Regions from separate parts of the Homo sapiens genome. Here region 1 is linked to region 2. The links come from fine-mapping of genetic effects on gene expression. Tissue or cell type: whole blood. Region 2 holds a variant in brackets; the other region holds the start of a gene. Each region is shown on its reference strand, or each on the opposite one. Region 1 holds the start of ZMIZ2 (zinc finger MIZ-type containing 2). Region 2 has its middle 270 kb from the start of AEBP2.

Region 1 (2,908 bases), not on the chromosome of region 2:
TCACTGTCTCCAAGATTGCAGGGTCAGGATCCAACCCAGGTGACAATGGAGTCAAAGGGTATTGAAGAAATGATGGCTGTGGAATGTTGCAGGAGCGGGGTCCTTGGTAGCAAAAAGTGGGGTACTCACATATACAGGTAGCTGAAAGTCCTGCCCCCTCTACCTGTAAGGCCACAGTACTAAAATGTCTAAGCGTGGGGCTAAGTCAGGATGCAGAGTTCATCAAAAAGTCCAGGAATAAGCAATGGCCCAGGCATGAGACATTTCAGTGAACAGCTGAAGGGACAACCTTAACCTGGCATCAGTTTACAATGTGTAAGATGGATATCTGGTAGCATCCTAGGACTGAGGACACATGACCACCTTCATGTCATCAGCCCTTGGGAGCTCAATCCCAATAATCAGGATGCTCCCCAAACATCTTAGGCCTGTCCTTCAGAAATCTACAACCGGCAACTGTCACCTGCTTGTTCTCTTCATTTACACTTCCAGCTTGTAACTATCCCCTGGGCATGACAAGGGCTAGAGGTCAGTACCTCTGGAAGTTAAGATTCCTTCACTTCTCCTGTTTCCACACTAAGCATCAAGGGATGCCCTCTGGTTCTAGCTTGCCAGAACTTGGTGGTGAGTCTGTGTCCATCCTATCCGTAATCACCACGGTCTCAGACCAAGTCACATGTTCCGTGTGTGTCCCTGTGAAATCTGCGATGACACAAATTAAAGACACCACCATGGATGTTCTGTAATACTGGAAAGAGGGTACCCTAGGGAGAAGGAGAGGCAGAACACTGCAGGGCAGAGGGTCCAGGGAATGGGAGGAGAGACACGGTAGGTGGAGGGGTAAACAAGGCACCGGGTGGGGGTGCCGCGGTGAAGGACACCTGGCACTAGGGAAGACAAGGCACCTCAGGGGAGCAGGGCATCCTCACGCCTGAGCTTCAGTATGTCCAGTTTGGAAAGGGGTGTCCCCATCAAAACTGGCAGCTGGGGGCTGGCCGCTCAGCGTCGTTCAGCCCAGGAGCGGAACAGCTCCTCCGCGAGCAGGTGACGGCCTCAGACGGCCCCCACATCGCCGTGCTGGTGGGCACGTAAGTAGGAGCGGAGGGGCGTACCATGTAGGTGAGACTGCCTGGCCCCAAAGCTAGGAACGATCAGGTTGGAGCGAAGGCCCGGCCAGCCTTCATCGCTCAGGAGAACCCCGAGCGCCGCTTACACCCCTCGGCCAGCCTCCAACAAAGACTCAGGGGAGGGCTGGATGACCCTGACGCCCACGGGGCCGAGCCTGCCCAAGACCACGACGCACGCGTGGCAGGTGCCGGCAGGTGGGCGGCAGAGCCTCTAGCCCCAGCCCAGCTGTGAACCCTACCGTGGCGCCGCAGCGGAACCGGGGCGCCCCGGGCGACCAGCTACACCTGCCTGCCCGCCCGCACCTGCCGGCCCGCACCTGCCGCACCTGCCTGCCCCCGCCGGCCCACACCTGCCTGCTGGCGGCGTTGCCAGGGGCCACCCCCAGGACCCCGCTCACCTCCGCCCGGCCTGGCCCGGCCCCTCGCCGTGGCGGCCCCCGGCCCGCGCCGCTCCATGCGCTCAGCCCGCCCTCCGCGCCGCCCGCCGCCCCGGGGCCGCCGCCACCCGCGCCATCGCGCCGCCGCCCGCTCCGAGGGCACAATGGAGCCGCCGCCGCGCCGCTCATGCATATGCATGACGCCGCGCAGCCGGCCCCGCCTCCCAGGCCAGAGCAGCAGAGCCCCGAGCCGGCGCTCGGGGCGGGGGCGGCCGCGAGCCCGAGCGGCCCAAAGCGGCAGGGTGGGGCCAGGGCCGCAGGTGGCTGGGCGGGCAGGAGACGCAGCCTGATCGCGACCTGCGCCCCCAGCCCCCTCCACACCTTTCTGAACGCGGCGTCGGCAGAGCCACTGCGCTCTTCCTGCTCGCAGTCCGCCGGGAGCGGGGCGGGGCCGGGCGGCGGAGGCGGGGCCAGGACGCCGGGGCGGGGCCGAGTGGAAGGCGGGGCCAAGGTGCCGGGGCGGGGTCGGGAGGAGGAGGCGGATCCAGAGAGCCGGGGTGGGGCCAGGGCTCGGGGCGGGCCCCGGCGGAGGAGGAAAGGAAGAGTGAGTCCTTGCCCTTCCCCCACCCGCCCCGCCCGCGCCCCGCCCGCGCCCCCCCTGCTTCCTGGGAGTCCATTGCTCTGGCCCGGCGGGCGGGGACACGACTGGGAGACAGAGAGACCCAGGGTGCCACTTTTGGGAGGGGATCTTATTAAAGGACTCCGGAAGCCCCTCGTTAAAGCAGAAAACTAAACTTAACAAGTTCGCTGTCCTCACTGCTCAGTTCTCTCTTCCCAGTGGTTCTCCTTCTGGAAAAAGTCACTATTGAGCTAGTCTAGCCTGATGGAATAGCCTCTCTGATCAGTTTCGATCTTTGAAATGCTATTATCAGCCTTTAAGTTATTCTTGACTTTTCCTACCGTAAGTTGAGGAAGACCACATTCTCTCAACTACCCATAATTAATTTTTCTTAATTGTGGTAAAATACACATAACGTAAAACTTACCATCTTAACTGTTTCCAAGTGTAGTTCTGTGGCACCAAGTACATTCACATTCTTGTGCAACCACCAACCGTCTCCAGGACTTTTTCATCTTCTCAAATGGAAACTCCATACCCAGTAAACACTAGCTCCCCATTCTTTCCTCCTCCTAGCCTTTGGCATTCACTATTCGTCTCTAAATTAGACTACTCTAAGGACATCGTATAAGTGGAATCATACATTATATGTCTTTTTGTGACAGTCTTACTTTAGTTAGCACAGTGTCCTCACTTCCATCCATGTTGTGGCATGTGTCAGAATTTCTTTCTTTCTTTCTTTCTTTCTTTCTTTCTTTCTTTCTTTCTTTCTTTCCTTTCTCTCT
Region 2 (2,908 bases):
ATATGTTACATATACATGATGGAATACTATGCAGCCATAAAAAATAATGAGATCACGTTCTTTGTAGGAACACGGATGGAGTCCATAGTTAGCAAACTAACCCAGGAACAGACATCCAAATACCACTTTCTCACTTATAAGTGGGAGCTAAAGTATGAGAACACATGGACACATAGAGGGGAACAACAGACACTGGAGCCTACTTGAAGGTGGAAGGTAGGAGGAGGGAGAGTATCAGGAAAAATAACTAATGGATGCTAGACTTAATACCTATGCAACAAACCTGCACGTATACCCTTGAAATTAAAATAAAAGTTTAAAAGAAGAGTTATCACCTTCTTTCAACTGGTTCATTTTAGGAATGTGTAAAATATTGAGCCAGAACTTGGTAGTGCAGTCAATATCCTCAGAAGAGAGTTGTTTTCTCCCAAATAACAGAAGATGTTTTACAGAAAGAACCTTATTAGCACCAGAATTTAGGTTTGTGATAAGTGGTTGAGTCTAAAGATTTGTAACAATGAAACATATCACTGGTTCTCATCTTGAAAACTGAAAACAAAAGGAATATTTCTTGGCCTAGTACCTGTGGTGTTTAACTTTTCACTCTTGCTTCCAGTTCTTTAGTTATAGCCCACAGAGAGAATATGGTAAACAAATCATTAAGCTATTTGGTTTATCATAAAATACTTCCATTTGACCATTTGACACACATTAATTAAGTACCTATTACATCGAGGAACTAGACTGATACAAAGATGAATAAGATAATATCTTGTAAGAAAGAGAGACAGACATGGAAACAACTGCCCTACAGCATACACAATGTGAGCATTGTAGAACAAAATGGAATGGAAATGTGGGACGGTATTCTAGGCAGCAAGACACGTATGCCAAAGACATGGATTGAGATAACCAAACGAATTTGGGGAACTGTGAGCAACTTGTCTAGGTAGACATGTGGAGCTAGGGAAGATGGTTAGGAAAAGTAATTGGAAGTATAGATTAAGGCTGAATCATGTATAACCTTTATTAATTAATGAATGAGTATTACTGGGCACTTACTATATGCTAGGAATCATGCTAGATAATGCAGCCACAGCAGTGAACACAGCAGACAAGATCCCTGCCCTAGATTCTGGTATATGCAAGGCTGAGACCTTAGTCTAAAGGCAACAGAGGTAAGCAGGGAAAATGGCACAAACTGATTTAGAAAGTTAACTCTTTTAAGAATATATAGAATAACTGAAACAGGAAAAACTAGACATAGTAAAATGAGTTGGAAGACTACTACAATAGACCAGATGAGTCCTGTTTCTGATCTCTTCCATTAAATATTACGGTCTCCTCATACATGAGTCTTCATCAGGAATTTGTAGAGAATTTTAATTCAAAATATCATTTTACTTGATTCAGTTCTCACAAAATGTGAGTTAGTCCTCAAACCTTAACAAATTTCTACACCAACAATATATTTTTGTTGGATCCACATCATGTTGCACCACTAGCAACTCTTAGTCATCCTGACTCATTTCCTGAACTTTCAGTTGCTTCAAACGAACTTCATTTTGTCTAAGAGTCGAGACAGACAGAAGCCGCCTATAAGGGCCCAGTGAATTCTCAACATCAAGAGGACTTCCAAAGTAGTAGCTAAGTCAAGACTCCTACCATTACCAAGATAATTAGAACCTCCAGGATATATGATCTTCCAAACTCTACTATCCGTTTTGTATGTATCACAGAGTCCCAAAAATTGCCCAAAGTCCTGGAATTTGTATGAA[A/G]GGGCCTAAGAAATTCATTCTTTTTTATATGGAACTTCACACACTTACATCCATTGCTTCATTTATTCCCTGTAACAATCAACGGAATAAGGCAAATTTGACATAATCAGACCCATTTTAAACATGGAGATACTAAAACCAAGGGAGATGAAGACTTTGACCCAAAGGTGCATTCTAGTTAAGAAGCAGAGTAAGAGCTAGAATCCAGAGCTTTTGACTCCTGGACCATGTTTTGCTTTACCTCCATGCCATCTCCTCAGCCATCAATCATTGTCTCTCTCCTACTGTGCCTACACAGCTGCATAACAATTCTTTGCTTTCTTAAAGGTTAATGAACAACCTCTTCTATGTTAAGCTAGCCTTCCTGAAGCAATTTCTCTTGTTTTGTAATACTCAAAGCCATCCATGTCTACCGCAAATAAAATCTCTTCTTTCTCTTCTTCATGATTCCCTTCATCCTCCTCTCCAACCTCCTCAGGGTTCCAGAAAAATTGAACCCTAGTCAACCCACATTGACCCTAGGAGGATTCAGGCTATTTTTAGATCAAGACTGACATACTCAGGCAGCAAAGAGAGCCAGTGAGATGCCAAACTTAGTATTCACCCTGGAAATGAACAAAAATGGGAAGCAAGCTGGCCAGTTCAGCGTGCCTTCAGATTTATAATAAATTGTCTGAGAGAACTTAGTGAATTAGCAATGACTCCATGCCAGAAATTCTTTGCCTCAGCCAATCCTGGAACTTACTCCGCTAAACCTAGGCCACCTGAGGTTTTTCAAAAATATTACTTTCACATAAAGTCCACATAGCTCAGCCACTGCTGCCAAGAACAAGTCCTGGAGAACGTACTGGCAAGCTTGGTGCTTGTCCCACTGGGTAGTCACATGAGCTGAGAGGCAGCACGTAAAAGACAGAAACTCTCTTAAGTAGGCGTCAGAAATCCTAGATTCCTTACCACTTCTGAGCCATGTGACATTGAGAGAGTCACTAGGAAGATCTATGGCCACAGCTGTGGAGTGTGCAGCTTTTGCTGTCAGCCCCTTCTGGGGCTGTCTCAGTCTCAGCCATAGAGAACCGTCTCCCCTAAAAGTCATATCCTTCTAGGGGCAGCCCACAGTCAAATGACTGATT

The links. PIP is the estimated chance that this variant, and not a neighbour inherited with it, causes the effect. A credible set is the group of variants that fine-mapping cannot tell apart.
Region 1: it holds the start of ZMIZ2, and the variant in region 2 is the best candidate, but not a certain one, in a credible set for the expression of ZMIZ2 in whole blood (TOPMed, PIP 0.72).

The regions. Positions count from the first base shown.
Region 1 is chr7:44,747,609-44,750,516 of GRCh38, reverse strand. It overlaps ZMIZ2 (zinc finger MIZ-type containing 2), which reads right to left and starts at 1,670. Exons shown (of 19, transcript NM_031449.4): 1 at 1,526-1,670. RefSeq lists silencers at 1,366-1,415, 1,426-1,535, 1,646-2,175.
Region 2 is chr12:19,710,874-19,713,781 of GRCh38, reverse strand. No RefSeq gene overlaps it. Among named protein-coding and RNA genes, the nearest start is that of AEBP2, 270 kb to the right of the region's middle. The variant A/G (reference allele first, on the strand shown) is at 1,779.